Homo sapiens: one gene and its partner. The protein of the gene in region 1 interacts with the protein of each later gene in a biochemical or structural test. Each region holds a gene or a part of one and is shown on either strand. Other genes may lie near its edges.

The links.
Region 2: the proteins of RRN3 (region 1) and PPP2R2A form a complex in vitro, tested with the Homo sapiens proteins (one study listed by BioGRID).

What each region holds. Positions count from the first base shown.
Region 1 is NC_000016.10:15,066,556-15,070,379, reverse strand, and holds part of RRN3 (RNA polymerase I-specific transcription initiation factor RRN3), read left to right. Parts: intron 1-125; coding exon 126-310; intron 311-2,102; coding exon 2,103-2,211; intron 2,212-3,824. UniProt on the Homo sapiens protein: Required for efficient transcription initiation by RNA polymerase I (Pol I). Required for the formation of the competent pre-initiation complex (PIC).
Region 2 is NC_000008.11:26,357,398-26,361,221, reverse strand, and holds part of PPP2R2A (serine/threonine-protein phosphatase 2A 55 kDa regulatory subunit B alpha isoform), read right to left. Parts: intron 1,054-3,824; coding exon 941-1,053; intron 249-940; coding exon 71-248; intron 1-70. UniProt on the Homo sapiens protein: Substrate-recognition subunit of protein phosphatase 2A (PP2A) that plays a key role in cell cycle by controlling mitosis entry and exit. Involved in chromosome clustering during late mitosis by mediating dephosphorylation of MKI67.

The DNA of each region.
Region 1 (3,824 bases):
GTATTATTTAAAGAAACCTATGAACTTACTTAGCATGGTTTGTAATGAAAGGCAGTTGTGTGTTTTTATGTTATTCTGGTTTTTTTATGATGTGTAAAGTTGACTTGAATTTTTCTTTTCTCTAGTACTGTAAAATCATGCCTAGATCTTTTGGTTAACTGGCTGCACATATACCTTAATAACCAGGATTCGGGAACAAAGGCATTCTGCGATGTTGCTCTCCATGGACCATTTTACTCAGCCTGCCAAGCTGTGTTCTACACCTTTGTTTTTAGACACAAGCAGCTTTTGAGCGGAAACCTGAAAGAAGGTCAGTGTTGTGGGAGTGCTGGACTGGATTTTCCTTGTGTTCTTGTCACCCTTCAGAATGGTGATTCATTACTTTTTTGAGATTTTTATAAAAACTGGATTCAGAAAACTGCATGTGCACTCAAACTTTTAATAATAATTTCAAGCAGCTCATAGGCCCCTACAAACCCCTTAAGATAGATTTGAGCTTGAGAACCCTACAAACCCCTTAAGATGGATTTGAGGTTAAGAAAGAGGTTTCTGCCTTTGAAAGTTTGAAATGTGAAGATGTCTCCAGAGGTGAGGCTGAGCCCTGGGCTGTGCCAGCGCCCTGTACAAAGCTTCAGTTGGATGCACCTTCTCTTTGTTGTCCTTGTAACAGCCCAGTAAATGGCAGGTATTCTCCCTTTACAGACAGCACTAAAGCACAGGAAAGTCATTTTCCCAAGATCACATGGTTAGTGGCAGGATTAGAAAACTGAAGCCAGGTTTGGCTGACCCTAAAGTTTGAGTTTATATAGATTAAACTCTGCCTGAAGCCTTGAGACTTAATTGACCAGTATTGTTTTGCTAATTTCTAAGAGTTACTTATAATTCAAATCTGTCAGTTGAAACTTATTAGATTAGTGTATTTTAGTTGAAGAGAGTCTCCAAGAACAGTGTTTATAAGTCATTGTAAATTGTTCTGTTTATGTTTATGAATAATTCTTATGGTTTTGTGGGTCACTTCCTCTAAACCGGGGTCTCTGAACCCTGCACGATTGCCATTTGGGCTGCATCATCCTTCATCGTCGGGGGCTGTCCTCTGCACTGTAGGATGTTTAACAGCCTCCACCTACTAGCTGCCAACAGCAGTCCCCGACCACCCCCAGCTGTGACAACTAAAAGTGTCTCCAGATACTGCCAGGTGTCCTCTGCGGGGGTCGCAGTCTCCTTGGGTTAACAGCCACAGCTCTAAACTGAAAGTTGTATGTGTTGCATTATATATGTTTACCTACATCCTACATGCTTCTAAAAGATGTTGTATGAACTAGTAGGATGAGGTTTTATCACAAGGTAAGTAAATACAAGCTCTGCTTTTCTTTGTATAAATTAATGCCAGGAATCTGGATTAAATATCTTGTTTTTGTAAGCTGTGACATCCCATTTAGGTAATTTTTATTGAAATACGTATCAAAGAAACTCCTAAGAAAATATACTTAAGTACAAGTTGGTCAGCTTGCCTCTTAAAATAAATGTGATGTCTTTATTTTACTCATGTAGAAAAGAATTATATTCATTAAGTCTAAGAAAGTGGTTTCTGTCTAAATTTGCCGTCCGTTGAGGTAGAAGGCAAATTTGGAGTTTTCTTGTTTAGAAAAAAAACTACAGATGACTACTGTGCACCTGAAAACAGCACTCAGCTTCACTAACAAGACATGCAAGCTAGAATCAAATTGCTGTTTTGTTTTGTTGCCTGTCATGATTGTTAGCTGAAACCAAATCACAAGGTCTTTTCTCCCTCTGTATTATCTCAGCATACACTGAGCTTGCAAACATATGAATTTCACATTGTCGTGGAATCTTACAGCCTGCTACTTCCTAAGTTTTCTTTAGAGAAGCTGCCTTGGTGACCAATGAATGTGGTTAGCCTAGTGATACTCTTCTGGGCCATATACTGTGTGACTATCTGCATGGACCTTTATTTAAAGCATTTCTGCAAATAATTTTTTAAAGTTTTTTTTAAATGTGTGATAATTTGTGCTTTTAAAAGTATCTTACACTTTTCACTTATTTGTACCTTTAAAAAAATCTTTTTTTTTTTTAAACCAAAGGTTTGCAGTATCTTCAGAGTCTGAATTTTGAGCGGATAGTGATGAGCCAGCTAAATCCCCTGAAGATTTGCCTGCCCTCAGTGGTTAACTTTTTTGCTGCAATCACAAAGTAAGTTATTTACGCTTTCTTGATGGGAGTTATTTAAAATATTTTTATTTATGTTTATCTAGTATTGTAAGAGTGTTAAATTTCTATGAAATTAGTAACATTATAAAAGGCCAGGCGTGGTGGCTGACACCTGTAATCTCAACATTTTGGGAGGCTGAGGTGGGAGGATTGCTTGAGGCCAGGAGTTAAAAGACCAGCCTGAGCAACATAGTGAGACCCTATCTCTACAAAAAAATTTTAAAAATTAGCTGGGTGTGGTTGCCTGTGCCTGTAGTCCCAACTACTCAGGAGGCTGAGGTAGGAGGATCACTTGAGCCCAGGAAGTCAAGGATGCAGTGAGCCCTGATTGTACCACTGCACTCCAGTCTGGGCTCCAGAATGAGACCCTGTCTCTTAAACAAACAAAAACAACCCAGTCCTTGCAGGAAATACTGTGATACAGCTATTGTTTTTATACTTTGATGGCGTTGGAAATTACTACTACTTCTTATCCAAAGGGCAGCACTTTGAAATAAGTATGGCAACCAGTAAGCTGAGAGGGGCAAAGCCATAGATGCTTATTAGAGTGACTCCTGTAATAGTAATAGAAATAAACTGGACATGAGGCAAATGTTGACCTGTAAGAGATTGGTTTAGAGAGTTCTGTTCTCTCAGGTCTGGTAGCTATGGCTAATCCATAGCCTTTCCTCTGTGCCAGGCAGTTCTAAGCACTTTACATAGAACTCATTTGATCCTCTAGGATGAAACCCTGTTTATCAACAGGGAGGTGGAGGTACAGAGAGGTGAAATCACTTGCCTAAAGTCATAGAGCTAGACTGGCAGCACAGATTTAAATGTAGTCTGGCTCCTTTGTAAGCTTTCACTAAGTTATTCTGCTTTATGGAGAAAGCGAATTGGAGAATTGAATATTCAATGAGGATATTTAGGCCGGATCATAGCTTAAAATCTTCAACAGATAAGAGCCAACAGCTTGCTGAGCTCCGTCAGCCTCTTTAGTTCTCCTTTGCTAGGCGTCTGGTTCAAGGTGTCCTCTCTTCTGAGTCTCAGTGATAGTAAAGGATTAGGAAAAGGCATAAAGAGACCAATAAGCAACGGCAGTGAGTGGGTGGAGGCTTCAGCACGTTGGTTAAGATGGTGAGCAGCTCAAAGAGTGAGGATGGATGAAGCAAAGCAGAGGCCGCTGCCCCTGGTATGTTCTCGGGGTGGGGACAGAGGACTGCATTTGTGAACCATCTGGTCCAGGGGCTCTCGATTTGGGGTTGGCATGCGCATTGGAGGCACAGAGTGTGATGCGATGTGAGGCTAAGAGCAGGGGATTGAAATAAAAGTCTCTGCCTAGGTACAGATATGGTAAATAAAGGCGTGTACCATTCTGTAGCTGTTGCTTTTGCCTGCTTGATGCTTTTGAGATTGAACCATATTGACACAAAGCTTTATTTTGATTTTAACTGCTGTGTTATGTTCTGGGAATCTTTTTTATTGAGTCTTTGTTGGGATTTCATCTGTTAGTTTTTGTCTTTTTTTTTTTTTTTATTTGAGACAAGGTCTTGCTCTGTCACCCAGGCTGGAGTACAGTGGCGTGATCTTAGCTCACTACAACCACCACCTCCGAG
Region 2 (3,824 bases), on another chromosome or scaffold:
AGATGAAATAAATCTAATATGGGCACAACATGCCTTCTTCACCAAACACCAAAGAAAACCAAATGGATACTAAAACTCCTGTCTGTAATTTCCAGATGCCAAAGATTAATCCGCAAATCATCTGCAGATAAATATGTTTCATAATCACTATTAATAGAAATTGAGTTGATGTGATATGTATGAGCATTGGCAAATATTCTTCGTGGACTGGCCTCAACCATTAGATCCATAGGCCTAAAGACTGGCACCTGTCAATAAGACACATGAAAAACAGAAATTACAAAAGGCTCAGTTTCAAATAGCAATTAAGATTCAGAAAACTTCATTATTTCAGTTTTTGAGAACATAAAATAGAACAATATTACATAGATTTAGTTTTAAAAAGCAACTGATGTTGATCCTTTCGAGTGCTGAAGAAAAAATGAACAATGTGGATAATATATCTTCTTTTACTGGTTGCAATACTATTAGAATTTGCAGTTCTTAGTTTCAATATTTTGCTTGAAAGACATGCCAAGCTAATAAATGTTTATGGTTCAGATTAAAGAGGCTAAAAAGAAAATTAACCCATAACATCTAATTCTTGGTATTTTTTAGCTACAACTAGAAGATTTGATCTGTATCTACTTTTTTGATTTCCAAAGAAAATTTATCTTGAAACTTGACCTTGTGATAGCTAACATGACAAACCAGAGATGAAGTCTGATGGCGTGAAATACTGTCTTGTGCTTGAGTCCTGCTTCTGTCCCTGGCCAAAGTGAGACCTCTATGTAGGTCAGTTTCTATGTTTAAATGAGTTACTCAATGTCCTACCTGATTACAGAATTACTGGGAAAGGGGAGATAGACTGTAATTATTCCTATTCAAGCTCTGCTCAGGATTTGGGCTATATAATATGAATACAAGCACTATCTGTGACATTTTTTTCTTATGTACTTACTCGTAGTGTAGTAACTGTAGTAGGATCTCTATACCTTCCATCCTCCTCTTTCAAGTTATACCCTTCTGGTCTTTTGTCCCTTTCACTGATTTTCCATAATTTTATTGTTTTATCTGGGAAGAAAATAAAGAAAAGTCCTTAAAATACTGAAGAAGAAAAACATTTTAAGGCATTTAAAATATGCTATTTCACATTTCACGTAAAAGGATTCCACGAAAAAAAAAAAAACCCTAATCTGAACTTACTAAAAAATTTCCTATTATCAGCTGAATAACATACACACATGGAAATAAAGTGCAAAGATTGGTGGCACTCATAAATTCCATGTGATAGTCAAATCAAGTCACAGACAGGTCTCTATCCCTGTCCCTTAAAAGTAATTAAAGCTAGAGGGAAAAACTTGATATGCATGTGTGGTGTATGCAAACACATATATGTCTGTACCTACATGTAAACATATACATGTTCAGTACTGAATTTTAAAAAATTTAAAGGGAACAATGAAGTTGATTAAGACTGCCTATTATGTAGAATCAAAATAGTAAAGCTGCTCTCCCTTGCTCCCACTTCTTAGCAGAGCCTATCAAAGATTCCACAGAGGCCTCCATAGGACTGGATGCCTCCTTTTTAAAACCTTTCCCCTTCTTGTATCAGGGTTCACAAGTAGGAAACAGGGCCTGAAGAAAACTGATTAAAAGCATACATCCCCAAGTCCTTCAAGAAGAAACCAAATTCCTAGGTATCAAGGATATATAAAATGGCATCTGTTTAAAAACAAACTTTTGTTTTACAATTAAGTTTAGATTTACAGAAAGTTACAAGAATTGCAGTGTTCCATATATCCTTTACCCAGTTTCTTCTGTCAACATCTTACGCAACCATGGTACGTGTGTCAAAACTAAGACGTCGACTTTGTATATTACTATTAACTACAGACTGCATTTGGAGATTTAACCAGGTTTTCCACTAACATTCCTTTTCTGCTCCAGAATTCAAACAACACTGCATTTAGTCATCAAGTTTCCTTAGTCTCTCTGCCTTTAAGTTTCTCAGGCTCTCCTTATTTTTCTTGATCTTGACAGTTTTGAGTAGTGGTGGTGAGGTACTTTGTAGAATATCCCTCAACTGGATTTGCTTGCTCTTTCCTCATGATCAGACTGGGACCATGGGTTTTTAGGAACAGAACAGAGAGATGAAGTGACTTCTCACAGCATTGTTCAAAGGGATACATGGTATCAACATGACTTACAGCTGGTGGCGTTAACTTGGGTCATTTGGTTAAGACAATGTTTGCCAGGCTTCTCCACTATACAATGACTCTTTCACCCTTGCCATATTCTGTTCTTTGGAAGTGAGTCACTAAATCCAGCCTGTACTTAAAGGGAGAAATAAGTTATACTCCCTGTAGGGAAGAGTATGTATCCACGTCTTATTTAGAATTCTCCTGCAGGAAGCATCCCTGCTCTCCATGTATCCATTCAATTGTTTATTTGTATCACTATAGGCTCATGCATGTTGATTTAAAACTGTTACAATTGTATAACAGTTTTTCTTATAGAAAAGCATACATTCCTAACGATCTTTCATAAGCAAAATGGTGTAACAAAATTGTTTATAACAGTATATAAAGCCATTTTATAAAAACAGAAACAACTCAGAGAGATGCCAGTGACTCTAGCCTGGCAGTCTCTGTATCGTACAGAAGAATGATAGTTGCCCCTAAGGATGCCCTTCCCAATGATGAAGTGTAAACAGAGAAAAACTGCTAACTTTAATCATCTGTAATCTATTATTTCTTCTAAGCCCTATGTGACCTTGCTTATAATTTTCTTGTAGTTCAGTCATACAGATTTTCTATGTGTTATTTAGTTTATATATGTATATGATTTATAGATAGATATGAGCCTAGCCTAAATCTGTATTCTGAGAAGTATTTGTTCTAAATACTTGCAAAGTATTTGTGATGAGGATGACAACACCCCCGCCCCCTGGTCCAGTTGTCTTGTGGCCTGTTTAAATCCATCCTCCTTATTAAAGATCCAAATAAAGAAACCACAATGTATTTATGAAACTTTCAGATGAGATAAAATTAGTTTGTGGTGCCTAATAGTGTTTACAGGAAGAAAGCTCTTTAAAAAATGTTTTTTCCTTAACACAAACACAGGACACATATGAATTAGGATACATTTTTCAGTAAGGTGGGGACAAGGCAGGCAGGAAATAAATCAGTATGTTAATAAATATGACATAAATTTTTAAAAAATCAGAATCCTTATGTTCTACAGCAGTGATATTTTATTACCTGGAGTTTTTGGCCCATAAGACAAAGTATGTGAGAATAATCAAACTCCATAAAACTGTATGTGAGATTATGTAAAAACACAGTTTTCAGTGGAGACGTTATTAGATTCTCAAGATCTGTTCCTTCCAAAACGACCACACTGTGGTGTTCCCCTGAATTATCAACACTAATAACTAAAGCATTGGAGAAACTGCAGAAGAACAGAGTTCCTCTCACCACAAGCAGAAGGTATGAGAGGTATGAGCAGGGAAAACCACGCTGCCGTTTCCTTTGTGGGAATGCAGCTTTATGTAAGACCCTAAAAAACTTATCAAGAAGTTGTTAAGACACACCCTATTTATGAGTGAACTTTACATTATTCATATATGTAACACTCATGGTTGACAGGTCAGTTTCATGTTTTCTGCAATGTAGAGGAATTAATGAGAATTCAGAGGAGCAAAAGAAGATTAAAGAGAAAGAGAATTAAAATGCTTGAAGGAACATTAAATTAACTCAAGTTATAAGGTGACTATGACGTCCTTTAAGTAAAAATGATCTGGGAAACCCAGTTCATATAATGATCATGGAAAGCCAATGCAA